Linked DNA regions of Homo sapiens. The protein of the gene in region 1 purifies or fractionates together with the protein of each later gene. This does not show direct contact. Each region holds a gene or a part of one and is shown in the gene's direction. Other genes may lie near its edges.

Region 1 (4,106 bases):
ATAATGGGCATATCAGGGTTTTTTTTTTTTGTAAGTCTAGAAAAGTTTATGTGCTGTAGAAGAGATCTAGTCTATATGTTAAGACATTCCCTTGCTAATTATTTTCTTCTCTGTTGTTCTATTTTTTTGGTCCAGTTTGCTGTTTTTAAAGTTTTGAGTCCCAGCTGGTCCTGTACATTTAACTGAAAAAAAAGTAACTTAAAATAATATAAAAATAGCACTCATGTATGTCCTACAGTTATAGGTGAAATTTGATATTGTTTGTCTTACATAGCATACCTATAGACAGCTTAAGTAAAGTGACTGTTAAGAGGGTTATGCTTATTGATGAACTCTTGTAGTTGTTTACCAGCTCTGTTAGTATAGTTAAATTGATCTCAGTAGCTTCAAGTATTTATAAAATGGTTGAAGTCCAAATACATGTGATAATTACAATACACTTTGAATTAATGGAGGGTGGGAGGCTAGTTGAAATGCATTTTATTTACCCAAGGAGTATGTTAAAATGATAGTTATAAATGTTGGAAGTTTAAAGCAAGATACTCAGTTTAGTTCTTTACAAATCATAAGAAGAACAAAATTAGATGTTGACATTGCTATTTTAGGCTGTGTGTTTTCCATATGCTTCTTGCTTTCCCTGTCACAGGTGGTGGCAGCAATATTGGTGTGATTGAGGTTATGCTGGCACCACTCGCACACAGGCGCACAATGGTGTTAGCTGGGCAGAAAGAGTGGCATCTCTGGCTACCGGGCTGGGGGCGACCTTTACCATAGGATGAAGTAACCTTGCATTCGGCTGCAAGGTGTACTGTACGTACACAGGTGCTGGTCGATGTCCACTTTCTGCTTTTCTTTCTTTCTTTTTTTCTTTTTTAAAGTAATTTCCCCCACAGTAAAATACACTGACTCCTGAGTAAATTGATTTTCCAGTTTTATGGAATTGGGAGTCTGACAAGTGAAACCAATTTAATGTAAAGTATTTGGCTTTCAAATGGTTTCTCTGTGCTATTTTTTGGAATTCTTTCAGATTCCAGAGATATCTTACGTCTTTGATTCAATTTAAAATTTGTACTTATTTTCTTTTAGAAATAATGTATTGTGTCTGTGCAGAAAAAAAAAAAACCAAAAAGGATTGCTTTACTCCAAGAGGAGAGATTGTCTTAGGATAAACCTCCAAGCTCACATTTAATATAACAGACTGAAGTAAACATTAGAATCCTGTTTAGAGCTATTCTGCACAGTTAACTACTGATCTTTAGAATCTAAAATTGTATATGAACTTATTCTTAAATAATTGAACCGTTTTATATTCAAATGACTTATGATCGTGGTTAGTTTGGGAAAAATAAGATGGTTAAATTTTGATTTATTGAAATGTAATTGTATTATTTTCATAAAATAGCATTTTCATTTTGTAATGTGGTTTAACATCCTTGTTGTTTGCCAAAGAAATTTCATTTGGCTGTGAATATTCTATTTGCTTGCAGTATCTGTTTCTCTTCCTAGGCTCAAGTTGGTGACCCAAGCCTATTGTAAACAAGTGATTATCTCAAAGGGAGATGCCAATGGAGTAACAATTTGTTAACCTTACGTTTTCTGTCTGTATATTTTTTTAAAAATCTGGTAGTTTCTGGAAAAAAAAGAGAAGGGGGTTTGTAGTACTTAACCCTATTTATTTCCGTATATTTTAGTTAATTAGTTTTTGGAATAAATGGATTTCAGTATAGCTTTGTGGTTAAATTGCATTGCCTTTATTTTATGTTTAGGCTTATTTTTAAATTAACATTTAACAGAAACATTTGAAATAGAATTTGCATGTCTGCCTTAATTAACTTAAAGACTGATTTTAATCTGACTATGACACTGAGCATATTCTTTAAATTACTCATAATTTATAATGCTTAATATAATCTTAATTAAATTTAGCAGTTTTAGTATAAGATGTGCCATTTTGTCCTCTGTATGTCTGAATGAAGCTATAACATTTGCCTTTTTATTGCAGGTTTTCCTTTGGAATATGGATAAATACACCATGATACGGAAACTAGAAGGACATCACCATGATGTGGTAGCTTGTGACTTTTCTCCTGATGGAGCATTACTGGCTACTGCATCTTATGATACTCGAGTATATATCTGGGATCCACATAATGGAGACATTCTGATGGAATTTGGGTGGGTACAGCATGAATTATTTTAGTCTATAATTCATCTCCACCTATCAAGTTATGTGAATAATTACAATCACCAATATATGCAACCTAAAATTACAGTCTATTCTAATTTAAAATGTTGGTATTATTTAAGCCCTTGACTAATGGAAAGCCTTCGATATAAATTCTAAAAGTAAATTTGGCTCTCTTGATACAAGTCTTGCTACTTAACAGTACCCAGCTCTCTATAGAAGTACTAATTATGTTTAGAGTTTTTGTTGGAGAAAAACAGTTAAAACCAAAGTTGGACTTAATCTTACTGTCTTAAATCATAAAAGATTTTTTTTTTTTTTGACAGAGTCTTGCTCTGTCGCCAGGCTGGAGTGCAGTGGCGCAATCTCAGCTCACTGCAACCTCCACCTCCTGGGTTCAAGCAGTTCTCCTGCCTCAGCCTCCTGAGTAGCTGGGCTTACAGGCACCTGCAACCACCCCTGGCTAATTTTTGTATTTTTAGTAGAGATGGGGTTTCACCATGTTGGTCAGGCTGGTCTCAATCTCTTGATCTCGTGATCCACCTGCCTTAACCTCCCAAAGTGCTGGGATTACAGGCATGAGCCACTGCGCCCGACCATAAAAGATTAGTTCTTTTCAGGTGACTTTAATTTGGATGTATCATCTCTACTGAGTCTTCTCAGTTATATTAATTAAGGCTACTTTAAACACTATTCAAAGACAGATGTACTTTGTACCTGGGTAATTTTGTTTTCTTGAAGTGACTGATATCCACTGAAAACATATATTTGACCTCAGGCACCTGTTTCCCCCACCTACTCCAATATTTGCTGGAGGAGCAAATGACCGGTGGGTACGATCTGTATCTTTTAGCCATGATGGACTGCATGTTGCAAGCCTTGCTGATGATAAGTAAGTATGTGCATTATAGCTTGACTGACTTACTATTACCTTTTACATTCTTAAGCCTTAAAGCCTTTCTGCAGTTAAGAGTTTTAATGTCTCTTCCTCAACACAAGCCCCTGGGAGATTTTGTTGTGTCTTAAAGAATATCGGCCTGAACAATTATCTGTGTAAACTAAAGATAATGCATGCCTCTCCCTGTGTTCCTTGTTTAACTTGTTTAGGCATAGTGGGTTGATTTTTAGTCAGCTTTTAGCCCAGCTTACAGAGATTTTTTAAAGTAATGTCTTAACAAAGGTTGAAGCAGAAGGAAATTTCTAAAGTGAAACAAATAGTAAAACCAAAAGAATTACAAATAAATAGTAATTTGTATCCACCATGATTGAGATTAGAATATGAAATGTCACATGAATGATATGTGCTGCTTGTTGGTAAGAAGCAGAAACTAGTTGCAACCATCTGTGTTCATGCATATAGCATTGAGTAGTTCGGTGACGTCAATTCATAAGGCAGCTCTTCTCTTCCCAGAATGTTAGCAAACATATGGAGAGAGGTTTTTTTTGTTTGTTTGTCTGCAACCATTGTTTCCTGTTTGCTCAGATAGATTCTGCATGTTAGTTCTCTGCTGTATTTGTAGACACACTCAGCCTGGGTGAAAAGCTTTTTTTCCTTTCCTGGTTTTTTTTGTTTGTTTATTGGAGACAGGGTCTTGCTTTGTTGCCCAGGCTATAGTGCAGTGGTGCAATCACATCTCACCACAGCCTTGATTTTCTGGGCTCAGGTGATCCTCCCACCTCAGCCTTCCGAGTATCTCACACCACAGGGGTATACCACCACACCTGGCTAGTTTTTTTAAAAAATTTTTTGTAGAGACAGGGTCTCCCTATGTTGCCCAGGCTGGTCTTAAAAGTCCTGGGCTCAAGCAGTCCACCCACCTCGGCCTCCCAAAGTGGTGGGATTATGGTTGTGAGCTACCAGGCCCACCTAGCTTTTAAAAATGTCTTGGGAAAAGGGTGAAACAGACTAGAAGTTGATTGT
Region 2 (4,694 bases), on another chromosome or scaffold:
AGAGGTCAGGTGGGGACATAGATCCAAACCGTATCAGCAGGGTTAGAATAACTTTTTTGTTTTCCTCCTAAGTGTTGGGCTTATTCGTAGGGAGAGTATGGTAAGCCAAATAAAACTATAGTATACATAGTATTTTTCATATAGTATACATATTTTTATATGTAATATGAAAATAATGTGTCCAAAGGAAGGTGAGTGGAAACTACAGCAAAATACCAGAGTCTTTCTTTAGAAAAGGACAGCTTCTATTTTGATGTAAGAGTATGGCTCCTCATTAGCCCTAACTTGGACTACAGAATGACTTCTTCTGAGCAGAGCTTATAGGAGAAAATTTTGATAATAAATCAGGACTGATGACGTTTTTGTTTTTTGCCTGAGAATTTTCTCAGAGTTTCTCTGAGAAACTGTATCACAAAATTCCTATTAGATTGCTCTTATGTAGACAACTTGAAATTATTGGCAATTTCCAATTTAGCAAAATGTTGGCTATAATAACTTAGTGAATTACGACAATAACCCGTTTCTCTTAGGTTTCTGATATTTAAGTGTCCTTACAGGAGAAAGATGAAGTTATCTTATAATTGTCCAGCTCAACTGCTCATCTTCTTAGCATAAACACTGATTTGGAAAATACTTTGCGTATCACACGTAGGAGCCTGGGAATGTTCTCATCCGAACTAAACAGTGGTTAAAGGTTTTTCAACAAAGTTCTTGCTGCAATATCTGTTTTCATACCCAATTACTCAAACCAGGTCCTCTTCCTCTTTGCTTCCTCTCCTTGCAATGCCCTTCCCTCTCTTCCCTAAACTGGAGAACTTACTTATGCTTAAGATTCAGCGCAATTGTCACTCCCAGGTGAAGGCTTTCTCAACAAGGCCTCCCCGTCTGCTCCCAGAGCTCATGGCAAGCAGCTCGGCTTTTATCAGAGAATAATGGGATTATCTATTTTCCTGTAGGTCTTGCCCCGGGGGTGTAAGCTTCGAAGGCGGAGACTGTGTCTTTTACATTTTTTCCCGTTTTTATTGCCCAGCCAGCCCATGTAGGTGACTCTCGGTGTTTCCTAGGCGGCCAAACTGAAGGAGTTTCAGCTGGCACAGGGGTTCCCGCCAACCGAGCGTTTAAAAATAAGCAGCGGGGGACGTTAGGGAACAGAGGGTGTCCCTCACGACGACCGACTCTCATCAGGTCCACGCCGGCAGAAGCGATTTTGCAGTTTGCTTTGATGAGGAAAACGCTCTCCCTGAAGAGTCCCTGCACTATTTCTCCAACTCTGTGACCGAGACGCTGTCCACTTTTCTCTAACGGTGACAGGAAGTCAAGGGGAAAACGTGGGATTCAAAGGTTTGAAGGTAACAGCCCTCAGCCACTCGGGCTCGAGGCCCGCGGTTGACCCGAGCTGATGTCTGTGAGGAGAGGTCGCGCGGCGCCTTCCTCTCCACGCGCCTGAGATCCCACCCGTGGCCGCCGCGCCCTCAACTGCCTTCTCCTTCGGTGCCCCGCCCACCCCTGGGCGGAGAGCACCGTTCTCGCGAGAACGCTGCTGGCCTCGCCTCTTCGCATTGTGAGCTCTCGCGGTAAGAGGCTGAGGAGCCGGCCTGCAACCTGCCGGGGCGGCTCCGCTACGCGCAGCCGCCTCAGTGGCTTCCTCCACAGCCACCTCCGGAGGGATCTGGCTGAGGAGGAAGTGGAGGTGTCACTGGCCCCGGCCTTTGCCCCAATCTTGTGTGGGCACTGAAGGGGGACTACAGGTTCGAGAGTGAGTGGACTCAGCTGGGGAACTCGGCGGGGGCGGCGCGGGAGGCTGGGCTTGGCCGGGGCGAAAGAGGAAAGGGGCGGAGGGCGAATCTGGGCGTGAGAGCCAGGCTGCTGCGGCGGTGGTCTGGGCGGCCGGACCCTGCTCGGGTACCGTGGGTGGCGTTTTGGGCTCCGGCCACGAGCACCCAATTAGGAGAGGCCGGGATAAGACTTGAGTTTTGCGGCTGCTGCTTTTGGGTTGGGAGTCCGGGGGCCTTTCTCCGGGGATGAAGGCGATACCCTCATCCCTTTCCAGGGCAGAGGAACCCCGTGCCCCGCCCCTTTCCTGTCATCTCAGACGAACGCAGCGACATCCTGAGGAAGGCGCATCACAATAGGGGATAAGGTGGTGGGCAGCCTCCCTCTGGGTGAAGAGGAGTGAGACCCCACTAACGTGCTGCGTGGTTTTATGTTGTAACCATTTTACGTGTGGTAAAGCTTTGTTTTCTTAAAACTTGCACGGAAAAGGTTCTGATGTCTTTCTTCTTCAGATGCAGGTGCCCTGACACCCTTATCTTTGGGAATGGGGCGGGGGAAGGTGAGACATCGGTTAGTAATTTGTTAGTGTGGGCCAGTGTGACTGTCCCTGGGCCTCACAGATTTCCTGCTTCTCCTTTCTCAGTATTCTGAGTCCATGATGAAAAGTCACTAGTCCAGACATGCTGAAAGATAGAGCTTCACTTGCTTGTGGCTTTGTGCACTTAGTAAACAAGATTATTTTACGAAGATTTATTATCTTGCAGAGTTTTCATGCTTTTTATTTAAATTAGCAATCTAAATGAAACAGCACAGGATATTAATTGTATTTGGACAACTGAGTTCCTTCCCGCCCCTATCCTCCCAACCCCCCAACTACACAAATTTGATCAAAATCTTTTAGAGAGGGGGTTAGGGATAAATTTTCAATGAAAGAGACTGTGGAAATCGGAATAAGAGATATAATAAAGAATGCAGCCATAACGGCCAAAAGAGTTTCTGTATTAGAGAGCCTGTCCAGGATTGAAGTTCAGTCCTGAAACCCAGGACTGCAGTTGTCATTTGAATATAAAGCGGAAAGCAGTAGAAAATACTTGGGAAGGGATTTGAAAGTGGACCAAGACTGGTAAAAAAAAAAAAAAAAAAAGTGTGAGAAGAATTATTTCTGATGATGTAAATGTGTTTTATAAATTTTCCCAATATTTCTCAGCGTGTATGACCTAACAGCTATTATATTAATACATACAAAGTAGGAAGGAAGTTTCTGAAGCATGGAATGTGGTAAGGAACCACCAGAGAGTAACAGTGTTCAATCAGGAAAGCTTTTAGTGTTTCAACAATGTTTTTGTGTTCGTTCACCTTTTTTCTCACTCCCAGAAAAGCTTTCAGATAGACTTCTAACCCTATGTAATTATGTTACCCTTCCACCAGTCTGAATTTTCTTCTTTCTCACTCCCTCTAAGCCATGTGAATTTTTTAAATTATTAACTATGGAGTTGCAAACCACTGTGGTCTGCTTTTGGCTTTTTATAATAGGTGACTTAGGGAAGTATGGAAGTGATATGGAAAATATTGTGCACCTTTCAAAGCCATAGCATGAGCAACAAACTCACATGCCTTCGGGTACTAGTTAGATAATGAAAATGAGGGAAATGCACTATGCCTTATCAGAGAGACATCCAAGTCTCAGGTCCCCCTAATCAGTGCTATATAAGAATATGGACCCCATCTTCAGCATTCTCAAGAGAACTCGGAAATCTAGATTTTTGCATTCAGTGTCTTGCGTCTTAAAAATATTGACAACTAATTAAAACCATTAAAAATATCATGTGACTGAATCAAATCCAAACCTGTCCATAGTTGTATTCTCCTCTCCAGTTTAGAAGCTCTGTTATAAATCAAAATTAATAAATTTTATGACTGGAAAAAAAGGAGGTTTAAAGCAAGTTTGGAGTTTCAAACTTAAGGGGTCTTGGGAAAAATGTCACATCTAATTGAAAACAGTAGTTAAGTTTAATAGCCTTTAAGTATAGTTATAGTAGGGCAATTTGAACTGGTATTTACTATAAACGTTTTAACTGTGGAAATAACTGAAGAAAAAGCATCTCAGTATTTATGGTTTAAAAACTCAGAGTTCTGAGCAAAGCTGATTTATAGGTATCTTGTACAGAAATTGAATTATTTAGAAGCTCTTTATTGTATTTGCAGCTAATATATAAAATTAAATACAAGAGACCCTCTACAGTCCATTTCAGGATTTGAATGTTTATTGTTTGCTGTGCTATCCCACATTGTCTTCCTAGGCATTGACTTACTGGAAGAAATACTGATCCCTTGGATTTTATTCCATGCCAGATGGAGATTGGAGGGGTTTGGCAACAGGATGGAAAGAACTGGGTGGAGAAAGTGTGATGTGAAGCAAACACTCTTGTGCCCCTTCCTTACATTGTTCATTAAAAGATTGATTTGTGTTAGTTTTTCTTGTAAGAAGGATAGGTATATTAATTGATTAAACTTAGTGCCTTATACATAGTAGAGTTTAATGACGTGTGGAATTGACCTTTGTGGATTAAGCCTCATTTACCCATTAATGTGAAGTAATTTAATCACATAATCTGATTCATACCTAGTTGGGTTATGGGGAATGGGAGTGCTAGAGGTCAAAGCTAAGTAAGAGGTGTTTTTTAGGCATATAGAGGGCAAGTTGGGGGTCTTCACTTGGGATAAGGGTGAGAGAGGAAGTTAGGTAAGGGAGAGAATTTTGAAAAGGAAGATGAAATGATTAAGTACCCATTTGTGTATTGTGCAGTTTTAAAAAGAGGTCTGCCTTTTGTGGCTAAATTTATCATAACTTGTGCAGAGACTACATAGAATACTGGTTTTTAATCAGGACTGCTATGGGAATTTGCAGATTTTCTTTTCTT
Region 3 (4,844 bases), on another chromosome or scaffold:
TTTATAAATCTAGTAAAAATTCTAGCAAATACTTTTAAGGAATTAGGTTATTCCAACTATAGGAGAATAGAGACCCATAAAAGGTAAATCAATTTTGAAAAAGAAGAGCAAAACAGTTACTCTTGCCTAAACAATGATAAGATGTACCGCAAAACTGTATTGATAAAACCTGATGGATCTGGTGCAGCCATAGGTAAATAAGTCAATGGAACAGAAGAAAGAGTTTAGTGACAGACAGCACTCCAATCAATTGCAAAATGAATGACTATTCAATGGGTGTTGTTGAGGAAACTGATGCATGAATGATAGAGGAAAAACGAGTTGGAAAATTTACATAACATACAAAGATGGATTCAGGAACTAAGTGAGAAAGATAAGCTCTAAGGCAAATGGAAGAAAATGTAAAACTACATACCTACAATTTGATGGGGTGGCAGGAATTTAATAAGACTTCCAAAGCACAAAGCATTCGGGGGAAATTATACAAGTGTCTATTTTAAAATTGAGGATTTTGAGTGATAACATATAAAAAGTTATCAGATTTCTGACAGGTTGGGAAAAGTTATTTGCAATGTCAATGCTATAAGGTTAATATCTAGGCAATATGAGGAATACCACAAGTAAATATTTAGGATATACAAGCAAACCCACAAGAAAAAGGTAGGAAACCTATTTGGAAAACAGTCCTATCAAAATGGACCCATGAGACTTTGGTTTCCTCATTTATCCATTCAATAAATATTTATTGAGTGCCTATTATACACCAACACTCTTCTAGGCCCTGGGGATACAGCAGACAAAATTCTCTGACCTCATGGAATTTAAATTCCAAAATGTTCTTTCCCACCAATAGGAAAAAGAAATTAGTTTCTACTAAGTGAATTTTCCCTTTAAATTACAATTACATAATTTTAAAGTCGGAAGGATCTTTAAGGTGCCTTTATTTTAAATTCATACTTTTGTATGGTGACAAATGGTAGCTCAGGGGCATAGAGGTTGACACCTTCCCAGCATTTAGACTATAAGCTCGACGGTTAAGTGGATTCAGAATGGCAGAGACTAAATCCCGACTTTTCTTCTACAGCCTATGTTGGCAACGGGTCTGAGCTTCAGTTTATTCATCAGTATAATGGCACCAATGATGAGACTTCACATAAAATTGGTATAAATATAAATATGGTATTTTGAAACAGAACTGCATCGGACACATGGTAAAAACTCAATGTTAGCTATTTTTATTTCTATACTTTGATTATGATATGATTCTACAATTATTTTCCTGTACACCATACTTCAAAAATGGTAACCTCTCTGGGTTACCAATCAAGTAACTAATTTTTTAAAGTAATCATCAAAAAAGGAAGTTATATACTCTTTATTATATTATACCCTAAAAGTTTATGAAATGTGTCTCATGGATTAACCATTTACCCTCATGTGTGAAATCTCAACTCAGGATTTTAGGGCTGGAAGGGATGTGACAGACGATCTTGCCAAGCCCGGCCCTTCTTCTACAAGGACGTCTTCAGAGATCTGGAGGAGGAAAGGGCCTTGCCCTGAGTTCGCTGAGCCAGAACAATAGGACTTCTTCTGTAGTTGTGAAACTTGTCAGTTGTTGAAGTCAGGTTAATGTCATCTGGCTGGCTTTTTAAAAGGGTGTGAAGTGAGAACATGAATAATTGTCACTTGATTAGAGACCTAGACTCAGAGTTAGGTTACTCCATGTATGAAGTAACCCCATATAGTTACTTCATACATGGAGTAACCATATAGTTACTCCATGTATGAAAAATTGCAAGACTGTTGACTGTCATTCTTTGGTTTAGTGGGTGGAGCCAGCTGTCCTCATTAGATAAAGGTTGTTTATTCAACCCAAGTATAAATGGAAAAAAAAGATGCGCCCTCTGTCACTGAGGGTTGACTGACTGGAGAGCTCAAGTGCAGCAAAGAGAAGTGTCAGAGCATGAGCGCCAAGTCCAGAACCATAGGGATTATTGGAGCTCCTTTCTCAAAGGGACAGGTAAGGAAAAAAGTCTTTCTTTGAATTCCTGGAATTTAGTTGAAAATTTTGGACTTCAAAATTTGTAAGGTGTTATTGTCTAGTTAGTTCAGTTTTCTGATACAATCTGGCCAGGAAATGCATATTTTAAAGTCCTCTCACCATTTTCCAACATTGTATAATTATAGTCACATATCCACTTACTTTTGTGGCTCGTGATCTCAGCCAAGGCTAAATTCATTTGAACCTACAGAATGTTTTCTCATATTTTTTAGGAGAAAATATTTTTCTTTGAATTGAAATGGACTCTTTCTGCATTGTAGCTACTCATTGAGGTTTAGTTGCTCTTGTTGTTTTTGATGTTACTGTGTGTATGTAGAGGAAGAGAGAATTTTAAGAAATACATTTGTTTAGTTATGTAATTAATGCCTAGAAAAATTTAATAGTTTGGTGGTAACCTTCAGGCTTCTTATAATTTGGATAACCTAAATATTATTGTTTCATGCAACTTTGTGAATAATTCATGTTATGTTAGGGTTTTAATGTTTCTATGAAACTGTTCATTCATGGACTAGGTAGAATCCTTTATGTGCCTCACTTGGAAGGGGAAAAAAAGAACAAAAAAAGAAAGAAAATCCTACTGCGGGTTGGCAACTCTAAAAGGATTTTAATGGATTTATGAAACCCCCAGATTTCCTTACAGCCACGAGCTGTGAATCCACACATGCCAGCAACATTGAATACACTTTTTTTTCTGCCTGGGCACACTTATTCTAGTAAAGAGAGTGTGATGACAGAACACCTTAGACTTCAACACGCATCTGTGCTTAAAGAGGATAAAAAACAAAGAACAAAATCAAACAAGACAATGTATGAGTTGAAACTACTAAGGTTGATTTTCTCCAGGTTTCTCAGGATCTGGGCAGCGTTTTGCTTCCTCTTAATTTGGAACCCTTGCTGTGTACTCTGACTTTTTACTGCAAAACAAATTGAGAGAGGCCAGAGGTTAGAGGCCCAAACTGCATTTGGACTGTCAGTAAATACTACTTTGCTTCCCCTGGAAATCCTCCAAAAGTCTCTCCCAAACACAGGGACATTTTGCTGACACAGAAATGTTCCTTTTAAAATCCACACTGTTCTCACCCACTCTTGAACAGGTTATAATAAATATATAATTTAAAAACCTCACAAAAGGGAAGCAAGTGTCCTCCTTCTACCACCCTCCTCCCATTAAAACATGGTCATGAGAATGGAGTTCATTGTCTCATGATTGTAAGGACTAAGAGAGAGAGATTTTTTACACTAAGTCATAGAGTAGAGAGGATAAAATGGCCAACATATAAGTATTTGTCCTCACCTAAAGGAGGTACAAGTTTGACAAATAAGCAAAAGGAAAGGATTAGAGGGCAGATGACTAAAATGTTGAGTCTGAGAAAGGGCTTCATCCCTGTCTCACCTCCTTGAAAGGCTTGCAAGGCAGCGAACAAACAATAAGGTAGGTATTATTTTTACCTTACAGTTGGGTTAAAAAAAAGCCCAGAGAGGTTTGGTAATGTGCTCAACGTCACACAGCCTTGACTGCATAATTCCAGACAAGATAATCTGATTCCAATGCCTATGCCCTTGATTTGCACTGATGTCTCTTCAGACTATTCAACTCCAAAGGCGACCTTATACTTGTGGCCATTTAGGGATTGGGCCCAGCTTAGAAAGTCGGTGGAGCTGACAAAGCAATTTCCAAAGTGGGCAGATAGAGCAAGCAAGAGGAAAGCCCAATCATGAGAAGCCATTTGAATAAAACAAATAAAAAAGAATTCTAGAAAATTTAATGGCTGTGTTATAGCAAATATAGTGTCAACTAAGGGGTCTATGAGCTTTGTTCTAAAATATGAAAGGGAGAAGGGTAAAAAAGCCAAGGAGTTTTATCAAACTGAGTATTGAGTATCTACTATATGTCAGCTCTACACTACAAAATATAGTGCCCCACATGTAAAGCAAGCTGGACTGAAATCTAACAATGAGGAAAAGACAAAAACAGACACAAAACTAAAGGCAAAACATGAACCAAGCAGCACCCTATTGGGGTTGAAAGAAGGAGAAATCATGTTTACTTGATTGGGGAGAGGCAGGTGTGTCAAGCAAAAAGGGAGTAAAGAAGCAAAATGTGTCAGGCAGAGGATAGGGCGGGTCCCTTGCTGCCAGGGACAGGAATTTAACATCAAGGATTTGCCTGGCACCCAGGGCAAGTCTTCTGTTCCTTTGAATGGGGAAAAAATACTTGCTTACTTTGATGCCACAGCCCCAATCCTAAAGATAGACACACGTGTCTTTTAACACATTGTCTCATCTGACAACATGTAATAATCTTCTGCATCTAAAAGCTCTGTTGGAAATTAAAATCAGAAAGATACAGAAAGGAACTGTGCCTTTAGACCTCTAATTGTTCAGGGGACTGAGGAAGACTTGCCCCTTGGAGGAAGAGTGTTAGTTTCCCTAATGTCAAAACGGCAAGGGTAGAACTTCCCATCATACTGTTAAGCAGGCCAAAACTTGAAATTACTGGGTTGGTCTTTGTTTGTAGTTTTCAGCTCCCAGATGATGACTTTTTCTGTTGCCTGCTTTCTCCCCAAGAGCTCTAGCTTACTTATGTGAGTACATGCACGTAGGTCTCTTTCATGTCACACTCTTTCGATGCTTTTGCCCAATCGTTCCCTTGGTTTGCAGAGTTTCTCCATCACTCTGTCTTGTTTTCCTAACTACCTACTCATGTCGCAAGACTCAGCTTAAACAGCATTTATTTCTTGCAGCCTTTACTGACACACCCTGTCCCCAACAGTGTTAAGGG
Region 4 (3,327 bases), on another chromosome or scaffold:
CGAAATTTTTCATATCAGAAACAAAACTTAAAATAATCCAAACATCCAATCCCAAGTTAAAAAAAAGAAAAAGGAACAAAGGGCAGGATTGTCACCATGAACATGGCTCTGTCTTTTTTTTTTTTTTTTTTTTTGAGAAGGAGTTTTGCTCTTATTGCCCAGGCTGGAATACAATGGTGCCATCTCGGCTCACCACAACCTCTGCCTCCTGGGTTCAAGCGATTCTCCTGCCTCAGCCTCCTGAGTAGCTAGGATTACAGGCATGCGCCACCATACCTGGCTAATTTTGCATTTTTAGTAGAGAAGGGGTTTCTCCATGTTGGTCAGGTTGGTCTCAAACTCCTGACCTTAGGTGATCCACCTGCCTCAGCCTCCCAAAGTTCTGGGATTACAGACATGAGCCACCGTGCCCGGCCTCTGTAGCTATTTTTTAAAAAATTAAACTCTGAACAAGGAAGAGAGAGAAGAGGTCAAGTGTTCAGCCTTTAGGAGTAAGGGATGTTGATACCATCAAGCCTCAGTTAAGAATATCAGTTATAAGGCACTAGTTTTCCAGTGTTGGTCTACAGATGGGTGCCAGGTCATAATATTGTTTCACCACTCTGTGTAGTAAAAATGAAAAAAAAATAAGGATAATGAAGTTTTTTATATCTAACATTTATCCATCTAAAGGACAATCCTTTACTCTGATATTGTGTTTCTGGCTCTTTCTTTTTTTTTTAAATCAAAATTTCATTCCAGGCTGGGCATGGTGGCTCATGCCTGTAATCCCAGCACTTTGGGAAGCTGAGATGGGTGGATTACTTGAAACAAGGAGTTCAACATGGTGAAACCTGTCTCTACTAAAAATACAAAAATTAGGAGTCTGGGCAACAGAGTAAGACTATGTCTCAAAAAAAGAAAAAAAAAAATTAGGTGGGCATGGTGGCTTGGGCGTGTAGTCCCAGCTACTTGGGAGGCTGAGGCAGGAGAATTGCTTGAACCTGAGAGGTGGATGTTGCAATGAGCAGAGATCGCACCACTGCACTCCAGACTGGGTGACAGAGCGAGACTCAGTCTCAGAAAAAAAAAATAGTTTCTTTTGTGAAACAATGATGGTGGTAAATGATAGTTATTGTTAATATTTTAAATATCAACTGGGCTAGATAACAATTTGAGAATCTTTTTTCGTAATACTTTTTAAATTGATTTGTGGAATCTATGATCTGGGAGCCATTGGTGTAAATCAAGTCAAGTATCTAACATCTTCTTTTATGTTACATGATGATAGGCACTTTTCTGTGACCTTTTCCAGGAACATGAGAACATCAATGGTGTACCGCCTCATTTGGGACATCCCTTCCACTGGGGTGGGCATGAGCGTTCTTCTACCACCAAGCCTCCATTCAAGCCCCATGGATCTAGAGATCATCATCATCCCCACAAGCCACACGAACATGGACCCCCACCTCCTCCAGATGAAAGAGATCACTCACATGGACCCCCACTTCCACAAGGCCCTCCTCCACTATTGCCCATGTCCTGCTCAAGTTGTCAACATGCCACTTTTGGCACAAATGGGGCCCAAAGACATTCTCATAATAATAATTCCAGTGACCTCCATCCCCATAAGCATCATTCCCATGAACAGCATCCCCACGGACACCATCCCCATGCACACCATCCTCATGAACATGATACCCATAGACAGCATCCCCATGGACACCACCCCCATGGACACCATCCTCATGGACACCACCCCCATGGACACCATCCCCATGGACACCATCCCCACTGCCATGATTTCCAAGACTATGGACCTTGTGACCCACCACCCCATAACCAAGGTCACTGTTGCCATGGCCACGGCCCACCACCTGGGCACTTAAGAAGGCGAGGCCCAGGTAAAGGACCCCGTCCCTTCCATTGCAGACAAATTGGATCTGTGTACCGACTCCCTCCTCTAAGAAAAGGTGAGGTGCTGCCACTTCCTGAGGCCAATTTTCCCAGCTTCCCATTGCCGCACCACAAACATCCTCTAAAGCCAGACAATCAGCCCTTTCCTCAATCAGTCTCTGAATCATGTCCAGGGAAGTTCAAGAGTGGGTTTCCACAAGTTTCCATGTTTTTTACACATACATTTCCAAAATAAAATGTGATTCCTTTGAAGAGGAAAATGAATAATACATTGAATTAGAAACATAAATAAAATGACCAGTAATTGTGAAAATTACAGTTCTTTTCAACCTACTTTCATACTGAAGATGCAGCAAAATGTGAATGGGAAAAGAGATGGCCTGAGAAGAGAGATCAAATGGAAAGGAGAGGAAAGAACTCAGTGCTGCCTATTAGTAGTTAATTCTGTCACTCACCACTACATCACTTGAGACAAATCTATGCCACTCAGAATCTCCTTCTTTCCTGGACTTAACTCTAATTCTAGAGTCTCTGTTACTGCTTGGGCTATACCTGGGCATACTAATAAAGTATGGTATTGAAACTATTGTTATCATTTATTTCATTTTATTTTCTAAGTTCCAGGGCACATGTGCAGGGTGTGCAGGTTTGTTATATAGGTAAAAGCATGCCATGGTGCTTTGCTGCACCTATCAACCCATCACCTAGGTATTAAGCCCAGCATGCTCTAGTTCTTTTTCCGAATGCTCTCCTGCTTCCCACCCTCCCCCTATTTATTATTATTAAAGTGACCTAAATTCTCTCCTCGTGATTATTACTAGGCATCTAAATTTTCTTTTGGAAAAATAAGTTCTAAATTCAGTATTGAAGCAAACAAACCTCTGGCTATAAATTGCAAAGAAGCTTGCTAACATGAATCATGACCATAAATTCAGGTGCATAAGAAATGTCACTTTATGCTCAGAACAAATTAATTTCTATTTGAGGATGCCATCCTACTGGCTTAGTGGAAATTTAACCCCAGTCCTTCTTGGAGTCCCCTTTCCCTGCCCTGCTACTTTCCACACAAAGTTGGGCCACAGTTCTAGGATCTCACACCATGCCAAGCTGTCCAGGTGGTAGGAAGCAGGATAGTGACTATCCCTCAGCCAGGGTGACTGTTGGACCAATGATCATCATCATGAGTGATAGCCATCCTGCTCAGGGATAGTCACAACCCTGTTCACATCACTCTTTCAGTCTGATTTATCTGCTACTTCTGTAGAAAACTGGGGGTGCAGGAATGTCTGTACACTAGCCATGGACATGACTGCCAAGGTATGGCATATGGCTGCTCTCTCCCTGGGATCTTGCTGTCTTCCCAGCTGCATGCCCAGAAAGCAGGGCAGAGATCTCCTCTGCCTCAGAGACCCCTTACCTCACTCTTCTCCC
Region 5 (4,106 bases), on another chromosome or scaffold:
AAGTTTTCAAGCTGTGAAACAATGTTTGCCCCAAAACTTACTTGCTGTAATTTGGTGTTCATGAGGATCAGCAGGAGCACTGATTCACATCACCTTGCACTGACAGATTGCCTCATGTGTCCCATAGAGTCTAAGGAACAACAGTTTAATTCTATAGGTATTTTGTGAGATTCTTTCATGTTTTAGGTATTCATGACGATCTTTCTCTTTCAGCAGGCATTAACGATTTTATACCTGATTACCAGCCCTCCCCTATGACTGACTCAGGGCTTAGCTCAAGTTCTACCTCTTCTAGTATCAGCTTAGGAAATAACAGTGCTGCCATTTCACATCTGCACACCACTATCCTCAATGAGGTTGACATCTCAGTGGAGCAGGATGGAAAAGTCAAAACCCTCATGGAATTCATTACCTCAAGGTAACACTGGCAGCTCTTATCATCCCAGCAGTGTATGTGTTAAGTCATTCTTTCATTGATCAGGTATTATGAGCCATATTTTTGTTGTCTGAAATACCATTGATGTGAAATACACAGGTTTGTATTGCACAGTATTTTGAAAATTAGGATGCAATCAAAGACTCTTTTGTGCCAGTGCAGTTATACCTCAGGACTTTAATCATATCTGGCTATTTAATGGCCAAAGAGAATGAGTATTATCTGAATATATATTTCACTTTTATTAGCTACATTATCATTCAGTCATCAAATATTTATTTATGGTCTACTCTTTGCAAGACACAATAAGTAGAGAGGGAATATAGGTGGGGAGAAAGGGCATGGTATTCCATTGCAAGAACAAAATCACAGGAGCACAAGAAAACCATGTGTTTGGAAATGGTGAGGAATCCACTCTGACTGTAATGCAGAGAAAAGAGAGTTGTTCTAGACAATTATGGAAAGCTTGGGAGAGTTCAAACTGGCGGGCCATGAAGCCCAGGCCATAAGGTTGTAGATTATATTGAAAATCATTAAGCTGGGAGGAGGGTGGGAGGCATCATTTAATAAGTATGTGGAGAAAATCAGCCCCATAACAGCGTGTAGGATGCATTAGAGGTGGAAGGAACCAGAAGCAGTGCGTAGCAGGTTCTCAGGGCACTTTGGGCCTGTGTTAATAAAGAGCTTAACTGAGGTGGTGGCCAAGAACACAAAGACGTTTTGAAGAAAGAATCAAGAGGACATTACTCTGTCCTAAACTTTCCCTGTAGTTTTAGCTAGTAAATTATTCTCATTGCATTTCACCAGCAAATTATTTTCTTTGCATTACAATCTAAATACAGATTATATTTTGACCTGGAACACATAAGCAGTAACCAATATGCTTCACACTTGGCAAAATTTGGCATCTTTTTCTACTACGTCTGAGAGAATTTGACTGGTCTGTTGCTAGACACTGAAATGAGATCTTTCTCTCCTTGCTGTAGATCATTACATATTCATGTGCCTAAGTAGTAGTAGACTGTGACCTATTTATTCAACTACCATCCTTTCTAATTGTAAAGGTGTAATTTAGGCAAGTGTGAGTACAACTGTTAATCACAAGTGAAAATCCAAGGAAATTACATCTGTTCTCTGTTTTCAGAAAAAGAGGGCCCCTTTGGAACCATGAGGATGTTTCTGCCAAGAATCCTAGCATAAAGAGTGCTGAACAGTTAACTACATTTTTGAAACATGTGGTTTCTGTTTTTAAGCAGTCAAGCTCAGGTATCTTTTAAGAAATATTTTAGTTTTAGTGACATTTTAATGTGATGTCAATTTCTGATAATGCTTAGCAAAAAGTTAATAGTTGATATTGTGATACCTCTAAAAGTTTTAGACTTTTAATTTATTAATGATAACAGATCTGTTTTCACTGAAGAAAAATTAAGTTACTACTTAAAAATGAGTGCTATCTATGAAATGCTAGGCTCCTTAGTTTTGTGTTTGATGGCATCATAAAATTACAATACAATTGCGTATTATGAAAAAATACATTAAACGGACGTATATAGAAATTGGAAACTTAAAAAAAATTGTGCTGGTATAGTCTTCAGTAATCTAAAATTCAACACATTCTGAAAATCATAGTCAAATTGTATATGTCTAGAGCAGTGGTTCTCAACTAGGGGACATTTGGCAATGTCTAGAGACAGTGTCACCGTTATGGGTTGGGGGCAAGGGGTTACTACTGGTATCTGGTGGGTTGAGGCCAGAGACACTGCTAAACATCATACCCTGCTCAGGGCAGCCCTTCCAGCAAAGAATTTTCTGGCTTATAAGGTCAGTAGTGCCAAGGTTGAGAAACCCTGGTCTGAAGGATTGCTTCCGTAAAGATTAAAGGGTCATCTAAAATGCAAATGGAGTTTAAGCAAAGAAAAAGCATTGACTTATAAAATGTGAGAGCCAGGAAGTGTGCTAGCTGCTAGCTTTAAGATGATTCACTTCTGATTATAACCCCATTAGTATTCTAAAGAACAAGAACAACCTACTCGTTTCCTTTGCATTCACAGAAGGAATTCATCTGGAACATCATCTTAGTGAAGTTGCTCTGCAAACAGCACTTTCCTGTTCTTCTCGACACTATGCTGGGAGATCCTTTCAGATTTTCAGGGCCCTAAAGCAGCCTCTCACTGCAACTACACTTTCTGATGTTCTCTCCAGACTTGTAGAAACTGTAGGGGATCCAGGAGAAGATGCACAGGTATTTCCTTATATTCTTTCAGCAGTTATTGAGCAGCTACTAGTTGTCAAGGATTTATTGTCCATATAGATTGCTATAGCTAGAGCAAGATAATGGGCATCTAGAATTATAGTCAGATGTTGAGCAGGCAAAGAATTAAGAGACAAAGTTAGTTTTGTAATTAATATCAAATAACCTACTAATTAAATCAACTATTCTAGTGCCTATCAGAAAAAGCTTTACACTCGCCCACTCACACAACACCCCACCCCCAAGATCTTAACCTGGGATGATCACAAGGTAAAAAAGATAGGAAGTTAAATTTAAATGTAAAGTGGAGCATTGAATTTTATGCTTTAAGATAAATGAACTGTTGCACTAGAGAACTTCAGTTTGTACAGATGAATGACTTTATTAACGCTGTTATAAATATCAGGGATACAGTGATCAATGAGACAAAGTTCCTAACATTCTAGAGCTCATATTCTATTGAGGGAAACAAACCTTTAGTCTTCCAATTATACATAACATAATTTATCCTACTGATAATGCTGTGAATATAATAAGATAATAAGATTAAAGGAGAAGGAATTGTTTTACATATGATAATCCATCTGAGAAGGTGATTTTTGAAGAGATACTGAAATGAAGTAGGTTCTGTTTATGATCTGGGGAAGAATATTTCAGGCATAGGAAAATAGGACTAACAGGTGCAAAGGTCCTGAGGCAGAAGCAGTAGGGCTTTTCTGAGGAACATCAAGAAAATTGGTGTCGCTAGAATACATTGCAGGATGTGTTGCAGGAAATTGATGAGGTAGGTAGGTTCAAATCACGTAAGGCCTAGTAAGCCCTGGTAAGAGGCAGGACTTCACTCTGAATTGATGGGAAACTACTCAGACATTTTGAGGGAAGGAAGGTGATGGATGTGATTTCTTTTTTAAAAAACTCATTCTGACATTGGGGTGAAATCTGTAGGGAGGGCAAGAGTGGAGGCAAGAGAGGGCAGGAGGTTAAGAGTCCAGCTGAAATGGTGGTAGCTTAGATTAAGGGAAGTTATGGAGGTAGAGGAAAGTGGTCAGATTTTTAATGTGTATTTTAAAAGTGATATTTTCAGCCAGGCACTGTGGCTCACACCTATAATCCCAGCACTTTGGGAGGCTGAAACGGGTGGATCACCTGAGATCAAGAGTTCGAGACCACCCTGGCCAACATGGCGAAATCTGTCTCTACTAAAAATACAAAAATTAGCTAGGTGTGCAGGCGCATGCCTGTAGTCCCAGCTACTCGGGAGGCTGAGGCAGGAGAATCACTTGAATCCGGGAGGCAGAGGTTGCATTGAGCCAAGATTGCACCACTGCACTCCAGCCTGGGCAATAGAGCAAGACTACGTCTCAAATACAAACAAACAAACAAAAGTAATATTTTCAAGACTTGCTGGTGGATTCAGTT
Region 6 (3,612 bases), on another chromosome or scaffold:
TTTTTTTTTTGGTCAGGTCCTACAGCAGTGGTTCTCAAAATATTTATTTTTCAACATTTAGGCCCCTTTGATAGGCATGGCAAAAAGCCCCCAAAAGTACCTCTCTGCTGCTTTCTTCATACCAATAGAGAAACAGTCTGCCCATGTTATCATTTCTGTACTGCTGTAACCCACAGCGTGGAATAGACTTTACATTCATGCTTTGTGAGACTGCCTTCCTGACCCGCTTGTAGGCTGCTTTTGAGAACCACTACCCCAGACAACAGGGCATGTGTGTTTAACTGGAAAATGTGGAACACAGTGCTGAGTACAGATGGAATGATGGAAACGTCTCCCTTGCACTCCCCACTGATGCAGGTTTGCCTCCCTTCTCCTCCAGTTGCAGGCTCCTTTAGCTGCACCATGAAGTTTACAGTCCGGGACTGTGACCCTAACACTGGAGTTCCAGATGAGGATGGGTATGATGATGAGTATGTGGTGAGTCTTCCCAGCATAGAGACTTTCTTTGACACCTTCACAACACTAAGTGACTTCTGCCTTGAGAGAACATTTTTCTAGGAGCATCTGACATAAACTTAAGGGATTTCTATTCTTCTGAAACAGATGACAAATTAGGAGGACCTGGACTAACCCTCCTCTGTAACTGGACAGCACCAGGCCAGAGAGAATTGAGATTTACCACTTCATCATTAAAACAAACTCACCCTTTTTTTTCTTTATAATAGGGATAATTAAGAGATGAAAATAATGACATGATTTTCATTGAGATCAGTTTTATTTAAAATGATTTGGGGAGGGGGTTGGTTTTGTTTTTTGGTTTTTTGTTTTTGCTTCAGCAGCTGTTAGTTTATAGCCAGATCATGGATTAAAAAGCCTTCACAGAATGGAGGGAAAACTTTTTTTAAAAAATATCAACCTCTTAGTGAATGATCAGAGGGTACCGTGTGCCCAGAACTCAGTGGTCAAGTGTGGGTGCAACATGACTACTCTGTACCTCAGGGCTACAGATGTTGATCTGAGGCTCTTGCCAGATGTTCTGTTTTCTTGCTTTCCTTTGCTAAGGGCTACAACATTAGATTTATCCAGACTACAGAACTTAAACTATTTTGGTGGTAGAGTTTTCTCTAGGCTCCGGAGGACCATATTGACTAGTTCCTTTATCTTTGCCCTATAACAGAAAGGACTTTTCTTTACTGACTGCTTATTACCCACTAGCTGGAAGATCTCGAAGTGACTGTGTCTGACCATATTCAGAAAGTACTGAAGCCTAACTTTGCTGCTGCTTGGGAAGAGGTGGGAGATACCTTTGAGAAAGAGGAAACCTTTGCCCTCAGTTCTACCAAAACCCTTGAAGGTGAGACCCATTTTGCTATCAGTATATTGCCTGATAACAGTATAACACCTAACAGGCATATTTGTTACTCCAGAAGAACTCCTTTAAAAAAAAAAAAACTTCATAAATCTCTTACTTAAAAGGCCAGCACCCTGTCTTCATCATCTAATTGATCAGCCATTTTCTAGTCCAGTAGTAGCCTCCCTCTACACATCACCAACAACCCCCTTCACCAACAAACCCTTCCACCCCAGCTCCCAGCATACACTGGTGCAGAGGGAGATCCCTGTGCTTTACTTTCCTAATACTGTCTCATACATCTTCTCAACACAGAGGCTGTCAACAATATCATCACATTTCTGGGCATGCAGCCATGTGAGAGGTCCGATAAAGTACCTGAGAACAAGAATTCCCATTCGCTCTATCTGGCAGGTAAGAAGCTTCCATCAGATTTTCCTTCCATTTTCTTGCAAAGCTTAATAATAGGATATAGATGGGCATCTTATGCCTTGCTGTTGTCCCATCATCCCATTATATGAGTAACAATTTGATACCCAGTCAAAATGAATAATTTGTTTTGCATGCTATTCTTGGTTATTCTTTTAAGATGTACATTTGGCCCAAAACAAATCTCTCCAACAGATACCAAGGCCACCACCAACATTCCTTTTGAGTACTCCAAATTGGTATTTTTGAATACCTTCTATGTACCTGGTTTCATGGGAATATAAAAATATATATATTTGGAATTTATGTTTGTTTAGGATTCAGTTTCCACAAGTCTCTGGAAAAGCTAAACTAAACTAATAGAAAGGAGATGCAGGGATAGCATGATAAATTTCATTATCCAGTGCTTGTTTTGGGTTCTTAATATGGTTTTCCTTACTTTTTTCTCTCAGGTATATTCAGAGGTGGCTATGATTTATTGGTGAGGTCCAGGCTGGCCTTAGCCGATGGAGTGACCATGCAGGTGACTGTCAGAAGTAAAGAGAGAACACCTGTAGATGTTATCTTAGCTTCTGTTGGATAAATGCTTACTGGACAAGAGGAAACTGATGCACACTACATGGTCAGTGGGCTTTTAGGCTAGTGGCATCAGTTTCCCAGAATCAGACTTTTGAAGATGAATGACTTTGGAGAAGCAAATTAAACATTTGGCCCTGAGCCAGCAGATCAAGCAAATGTCTATCTTTGCGCATGGGTTGTTTTTTTTTTTTTTTCTTTTTATTCTACTTGGTCAGCTTTGGGACGATAGTGCAGCTTTGGGTGATCTTGAAAATCAAATACTATCCTATACTCCAGCTGCTTAACTTCATTTTATTCTTTAATGTGTACCTGAAAGCTCCTGGCAATGCTGGAAAATTTTTATCCCAGAGGGGTGGGGGGGAGGGGGGAGGGGAAGCCAGAGTCCACTTTTGTCACAATTCATTTTTATTAATAGAAAATAAACACTTATTCCAGTTTCAAAGTTGTTATACTTGAAGTTGCTAATTTAAAAAAACGAATTTTAAATAATCACTTAATAATCCTGCTTTGACTAAGACAATGAAATGTGGCTTTAAAAAAAAAGTATTCAGCACCATTTGCTCATAGGTCTTTCAGAGTTTGTTCTTAAAGTTTCTGGAACTTTCCTGTCTGTAAAGTAACAGGAATTACTGAGCTACATTGGAAAGCCTCTCTGGGACAGGCAGTGGGGAGTTAAGCAGTCATCATAAAGGAATCAGTGTACATTCAGCATGGTGACTTGACTACACAACAATCCCTTCCCCTCTACTGTAGCTCAAGAGAGACATGCTTCTAACCACTGAGGTATGAGGAGTCTCAGACTGTTATTTGCTGTTAGAATTGGTCTTCCCAGCTAATAACAGTACATCTCTGGCACAGATGCTATTGGTCCTTAATGTCCTGTGATTTTAGGAAATAGTTTGGATTTAGTTCAATTTATTCAGAAACCAAATGTGTTTAATTAGCTTCACTACTCTGGCAGAGTAAGGGTATGCTGGTTTAGTATCTTTATAAAATATATATAATGTATAGGTAAATCATAGTCTTAAATCATACCTAAAATACTGTATCATTTAAACCAATATCTATTTTAACAAAATGTTTATAACTAAAAACAGCTGATGAAACACTAAATCCAAAGGTATGACAAAGAGGACTCAGCTCTGTGTTGCTTAAAGAACTTTTAAAAGGCATGTGCCCATAACGTCATTCGAGGAGAGGGAAGGAGCCCCCCTTCTCCTCCTCCTTACTATAGAATTCCTGTTGGGGGTGGG
Region 7 (4,618 bases), on another chromosome or scaffold:
CTGGGTGAGTCTGGGTTTCCGTTAGCCTCGCAGGGGTGTCCCTTCGAGGGTCGTTAGCGAGCCTCCGCTTTCCCACGATCTGTCCTCCGATTCCTGTTAACTCTAGACTTTCTGATGTTCCCATACCCCCCACGTCTCGGCAGGTGTTTCCACACCGGTAGCCAGCTGTGCCCTGAGGTGGAAGAGGACCGGCCACCCAGGAATTTTCCAAGTAACGACTCGGAGTCTCCGGGATTCCTATCTCCCGGCCCCCGAATTTCCATTAATATTCTAGCGATGTCAGAAACATCCTCAGCTTCCCAGAAAAATCCCAGTAATATTCCAGCATCTCTCAGTATCTTCCAAGGAGCCCGGACGCCCTCCCCAGGCCCGCTCTCATAAGCACCCCAGGAATGTGCCCACCCACCTCCTGGTTTTCCCAGCAGTAGTATTGTAATCCTCAGAATCTCAGTAACTTTCCAGTGACCCCGCATCCCCACCCACTAATCCCAGCGTCTCTGGTTACGCCTCCCAGCAATGGCGCCACCATCGGTCCCGGAGTCCCAGTGATGCTCTGTGCCATAGAGCCCCCATAACTTCACTACTACGTGATAGTAAATCCCCGGCAAAAACCAGCAGCGCCTTGCAAGCCCACGCCACCCCAAGCATCCCAGGACTCTTCTGAAACGTGGGTATCAGACGCCTTCCGCGGATGCCCCGGCAGTACTCCCGTGCCTCCCAGCTCCTGGGTCTTCCCCGGGGCAGGCTTGCGTCGGGAGCCGAGTATCTAGGTGCCCACTCCCGGACCCCACGGTTTGCGGGCCCGTTTTCCTGGGGTGGGGCATTCAGTCTTCGACGGAGTAGGGGGTGCGGCCTGGGGGGTGGGGTGGTCAGGCTTGATCAACCCTGCAGAGGGCAGTGACCCGGGAGGAAGTCACCAGGTGCAGAGGACCGTGCCCTGTGGGGACCTGCCTGCAGGCTGCTGACAGTGGGTACCAGGTCGGCCTTTGGCCCCGGGGTGGGGTTGGACAGGCGGGCGTCTGGTAGGCCCTACGCGTAGGCGAAGGGAGCAGGAAGCCGGGGACCCGCCTCATCTCCTGGCCAGGGCCGAGAGGTCGGTTTGCTCCATCCCTTAGTCCCGCAGCGCCCCTCTAGCCTCGCCCCTGGCAGCTGGAGACGCTTCCCCCGCCACCCCAGAGGGCAGGGCTTGAGCTGGGGGCAGGGCTTGAGGCAGGGGAGAGGTGGGCCCAGATTGACGACTTGCACGGGTTCCTTCGACTCCTTGATTTCCCAGGACTCCGGGCTACCAGATCGGCCGTCCAGCTGGAATCAACCGATGGAGGCTCCGCTGCAAACTGGAATGGTAAGGGGTGGGGCGGAGACCGGGTAGGTGCCGGCGTGGGGCGCCAAGAGGACTACAACTCCCGGCGTGCTCAGCGCGCATTACGTGGTCTGGCGATAACGCGCTGCGTCCGCTCGGGCGGAACTACGTTTCCCGGCATGCACTGCGGGCCGCCGGGCCTCAGGGAAGAGTCGCGCCCCCGGGGAGGGAGCAGCACTGGCCCATTCTGCAGATGGGGACATCGAGTCACGGGCTGGCTACGAACTCCTCGGGGGCGAAGGTGGCGGAGAGGGATGGGTTCCAGGACGTCCTGGCGCCCGGGGAAGGCTCGGCGGGACGGATTTGCGGTGCGCAGCCAGTGCCGTTCGTCCCTCAGGTGCTTGGCGTGATGATCGGGGCCGGAGTGGCGGTGGTGGTCACGGCCGTGCTCATCCTCCTGGTGGTGCGGAGGCTGCGAGTGCCAAGTGAGCACCCGAGGGGCCCCTCTTGGGAGGCTGTATGGTGGGGGGCCCAAATGCCCGGGTCCCGAGGCGGCAGAGATGGGGATTTGCTGGCGTCTGTTCGCGGTACCCCAGCTCTGGCAGGGTGGAGTCTGCACAGAGCTCGGAGTGCCCCTGTCCCCACCTATCCCCAGAAACCCCAGCCCCGGATGGCCCCCGGTATCGGTTCCGGAAGAGGGACAAAGTGCTCTTCTATGGCCGGAAGATTATGCGGAAGGTGAGTCCGGGACCCCTGGGGTCCGCCCTGACCACACAGAGGCCGCGCCCCTTCCCTATTTACACTTCTTAGTGTCCGCCACCGCTCCTTCCTTGATGGAGACCCCCTGGATCCGTCTGCCTCTTCTCCAAGGTCTGAATTAGCAATTCACCCATCTCCGCCTTCATTCTCCCAGGTGTCACAATCCACCTCCTCCCTCGTGGATACCTCTGTCTCCGCCACCTCCCGGCCACGCATGAGGAAGAAACTGAAGATGCTCAACATTGCCAAGAAGTAAGGCTGTGCTGGGTGTGACCTGGTATTAGGGGTTATCTCAGGGGCCTTTTGAGTAATCAGCTTACACCAAAGTGTTGTGGAAGTCTTCCCATATTGGCTGCGCGCTGTGGCTCATGCCTGTAATTCCCAGCACTTTGGGAGGCTAAGGCGGGCAGATCACCTGAGATCAGGAGTTTGAGGCCAGCCTGGCCAACATGGCAAACCTCATCTGTACTAAAAATACAAAAATTAGCTGGGCGTGGTGGCATGGGCCTGTAATCCCAGCTACTCAGAAGGGTGAGACAGGAGAATCACTTGAATCTGGGAGGTGGAGGTTGCAGTGAGCTGAGATCATGCCACTGCACTCCAGCCTGGGCAATAGAGTGAGACTCTGTCTCAAAAAAAAAAAAAAAAAAAAAAAAAAGAAGAAGAAGAAGAAGAAAGTCTTCCTGTTTCAGAGAGACATCTCTGGACTCTCCTCTCAGAGCTCTTCCACACCAGACATGCTGTCTCTAGGGTATCTCTTCCCTGAGGGCTACCTCAGTGACCTTCTCCTTCCACTGGAGTATCTGAGCTATTTGTTCCCAAGTCAATATCTCAGAGGTCTTGCCATATACTTAGTGGGGGGGTCTACATCAGGGGTTTCCATGTAGGTTATTTCATGAGTCTCTTCACATGAGTGGTTTTCTTCCAGGGTACCTCACTGAGGTAATTGTGTTTCTACGATCTCCTAAAGGGGCTATCTCCAGCCTCCAGCCTCTCTTCTCCGGGGGTTATCTCAGGCATCTCTGTACATCAGAAGGCATCTTTCCTATGTTATGGACCTTGAAGTTCTTCCCACACTAAGGAGGCTGTCTCAGGAGTTTCTGTTCCCTAGGGGCTATCTTATGAATTTTCTTGCACTAGAAATATAGGAAGGATGCATCAGAGATCCCTGTTGGCAGCAAGGTCTGCGAGAAAGGCTCTCCAACTCTCTTTGCAAGTTGGGTGCTGGCTCTGGGATCCCTGTGCGTCATGTAGTCTACCTGGAGGTCTGCCTCAAGGGTTTCTTCACACCAGGGCAGGGCTCTCCATGATCAATAGTCCTGCAATGGCAGTCCTTTCTTTTTTGTTTGTTTGTTTGTTTGTTTTTGAGATGGAGTCTTGCTCTGTCACTAGGCTAGAGTGCACTGGCACGATCTCGGCTCACTGCAACCTCCACCTCCTCGGTTCAAAAGATTCTCCTGCCTCAGCCTCCCGAGTAGCTGGGACTACAGGCTCATACCACCATGCCCAGCTAATTTTTGCATTTTTAGTAGAGACGGGGTTTCACCATGTTGGCCAGGATGGTCTCGATCTCTTGACCTTGTGATCCGTCCGCCTCGGCCTCCTAAAGTGCTGGGATTACAGGCATGAGCGACTGAGCCCGGCCAATGGCAGGGCTTTCTGTGAGTTGAGTAGAAGGACTATCTCAAAGTTCCCCATGATCAGTTGAGGGTCTATACCTCAGGTTTCTCCACATCACAGGAGCTGTCTGTAGTGTTTGCACACTCTTAAGGGACTACCCTGATATCTTCATGATTGTCAGAGGGCTGTCTGAGCTTTCTGTGACCTAGGGAAGAGTTAGCCCAAGATCTCCCTGATCAAAAAAGGAATAATCATAACAATTATAATTATTATTATTATTTTGGAGACAGGATCACACTTTGTTGTTGAGGCTAGAGTGCAGTGGCACAATCACAGCTCACTGCAGCCTTTACCTCCTGGGCTCAAGAGATCTCTCCTGCCTCAGCCTCTTAAGTAGCTGAGACCATGGGCATGCACCACCATGCCTGGCTAATTTTTAAATTTTTTTGTAGAGATGGGAGTCTCACTGTGTTGCCTGGGCTAGTCTTGAACTCCTGGCCTCAAGCAATCCTCCCACCTCGGCCTCCCAAAGTGCTGGTATTACAGGCATGAGCCACCACGCCCAGCCAAAAAAGGAATTATATCTGAATTTCTTGATTTCACTGAGTTTAACTCAGGGTCCCATCCTCCAAGGTCTATCTCAGGGATCTTTTGCCAGCGGAGGGTCTTTCTCAGCAATCACTGTGACTTGTGGGGAAGGGCTCTCCCAGGTCCACGATTAGCAGAGGGGCTATCTGGATTCTCCACTTATAATGAGGGCTACTTCAGGGACCTCTGTGGCTGTCAGAGGGGCTGTCTCAAGGTTCTCTGAGACTGGGAGGAAGGTCTATCTCAGGAATGTTTATGTAGAACAGAGAGACTGTATCTGCGGTCTTCTCATATATTGGAAGCTATGTCAAAGGCATACTCACGTTAAGGGGACTATCTCAGGAATCTACT

The links.
Region 2: the proteins of WSB1 (region 1) and BTBD10 purify together in Homo sapiens (affinity purification with mass spectrometry, with the first as the bait; one large-scale study listed by BioGRID). This does not show direct contact.
Region 3: the proteins of WSB1 (region 1) and ARG1 purify together in Homo sapiens (affinity purification with mass spectrometry, with the first as the bait; one large-scale study listed by BioGRID). This does not show direct contact.
Region 4: the proteins of WSB1 (region 1) and HRG purify together in Homo sapiens (affinity purification with mass spectrometry, with the first as the bait; one large-scale study listed by BioGRID). This does not show direct contact.
Region 5: the proteins of WSB1 (region 1) and FRYL purify together in Homo sapiens (affinity purification with mass spectrometry, with the first as the bait; one large-scale study listed by BioGRID). This does not show direct contact.
Region 6: the proteins of WSB1 (region 1) and COPG2 purify together in Homo sapiens (affinity purification with mass spectrometry, with the first as the bait; one large-scale study listed by BioGRID). This does not show direct contact.
Region 7: the proteins of WSB1 (region 1) and PNPLA6 purify together in Homo sapiens (affinity purification with mass spectrometry, with the first as the bait; one large-scale study listed by BioGRID). This does not show direct contact.

What each region holds. Positions count from the first base shown.
Region 1 is NC_000017.11:27,307,098-27,311,203, forward strand, and holds part of WSB1 (WD repeat and SOCS box-containing protein 1), read left to right. Parts: intron 1-646; exon of another isoform or gene 647-2,002; coding exon 2,003-2,175; intron 2,176-2,963; coding exon 2,964-3,077; intron 3,078-4,106. UniProt on the Homo sapiens protein: Probable substrate-recognition component of a SCF-like ECS (Elongin-Cullin-SOCS-box protein) E3 ubiquitin ligase complex which mediates the ubiquitination and subsequent proteasomal degradation of target proteins.
Region 2 is NC_000011.10:13,460,154-13,464,847, reverse strand, and holds the start of BTBD10 (BTB/POZ domain-containing protein 10), read left to right. Parts: upstream 1-1,625; 5' UTR 1,626-1,756; intron 1,757-1,858; exon of another isoform or gene 1,859-2,226; intron 2,227-4,694. UniProt on the Homo sapiens protein: Plays a major role as an activator of AKT family members by inhibiting PPP2CA-mediated dephosphorylation, thereby keeping AKTs activated. Plays a role in preventing motor neuronal death and accelerating the growth of pancreatic beta cells.
Region 3 is NC_000006.12:131,571,320-131,576,163, forward strand, and holds the start of ARG1 (arginase-1), read left to right. Parts: upstream 1-1,906; 5' UTR 1,907-1,963; coding exon 1,964-2,020; intron 2,021-2,646; exon of another isoform or gene 2,647-2,973; coding exon of another isoform or gene 2,974-2,976; intron 2,977-4,844. UniProt on the Homo sapiens protein: Key element of the urea cycle converting L-arginine to urea and L-ornithine, which is further metabolized into metabolites proline and polyamides that drive collagen synthesis and bioenergetic pathways critical for cell proliferation, respectively; the urea cycle takes place primarily in the liver and, to a lesser extent, in the kidneys.
Region 4 is NC_000003.12:186,675,753-186,679,079, forward strand, and holds the end of HRG (histidine-rich glycoprotein precursor), read left to right. Parts: intron 1-1,270; coding exon of another isoform or gene 1,271-1,294; coding exon 1,295-2,131; 3' UTR 2,132-2,482; downstream 2,483-3,327. UniProt on the Homo sapiens protein: Plasma glycoprotein that binds a number of ligands such as heme, heparin, heparan sulfate, thrombospondin, plasminogen, and divalent metal ions. Binds heparin and heparin/glycosaminoglycans in a zinc-dependent manner.
Region 5 is NC_000004.12:48,542,379-48,546,484, reverse strand, and holds part of FRYL (protein furry homolog-like), read left to right. Parts: intron 1-213; coding exon 214-418; intron 419-1,580; coding exon 1,581-1,702; intron 1,703-2,487; coding exon 2,488-2,678; intron 2,679-4,106. UniProt on the Homo sapiens protein: Plays a key role in maintaining the integrity of polarized cell extensions during morphogenesis, regulates the actin cytoskeleton and plays a key role in patterning sensory neuron dendritic fields by promoting avoidance between homologous dendrites as well as by limiting dendritic branching.
Region 6 is NC_000007.14:130,505,427-130,509,038, reverse strand, and holds the end of COPG2 (coatomer subunit gamma-2), read left to right. Parts: intron 1-379; coding exon 380-477; intron 478-1,215; coding exon 1,216-1,354; intron 1,355-1,666; coding exon 1,667-1,765; intron 1,766-2,232; coding exon 2,233-2,363; 3' UTR 2,364-2,801; downstream 2,802-3,612. UniProt on the Homo sapiens protein: The coatomer is a cytosolic protein complex that binds to dilysine motifs and reversibly associates with Golgi non-clathrin-coated vesicles, which further mediate biosynthetic protein transport from the ER, via the Golgi up to the trans Golgi network.
Region 7 is NC_000019.10:7,534,236-7,538,853, forward strand, and holds the start of PNPLA6 (patatin-like phospholipase domain-containing protein 6), read left to right. Parts: upstream 1-1,481; 5' UTR 1,482-1,553; coding exon 1,554-1,785; intron 1,786-1,955; coding exon 1,956-2,038; intron 2,039-2,213; coding exon 2,214-2,311; intron 2,312-4,618. UniProt on the Homo sapiens protein: Phospholipase B that deacylates intracellular phosphatidylcholine (PtdCho), generating glycerophosphocholine (GroPtdCho). This deacylation occurs at both sn-2 and sn-1 positions of PtdCho.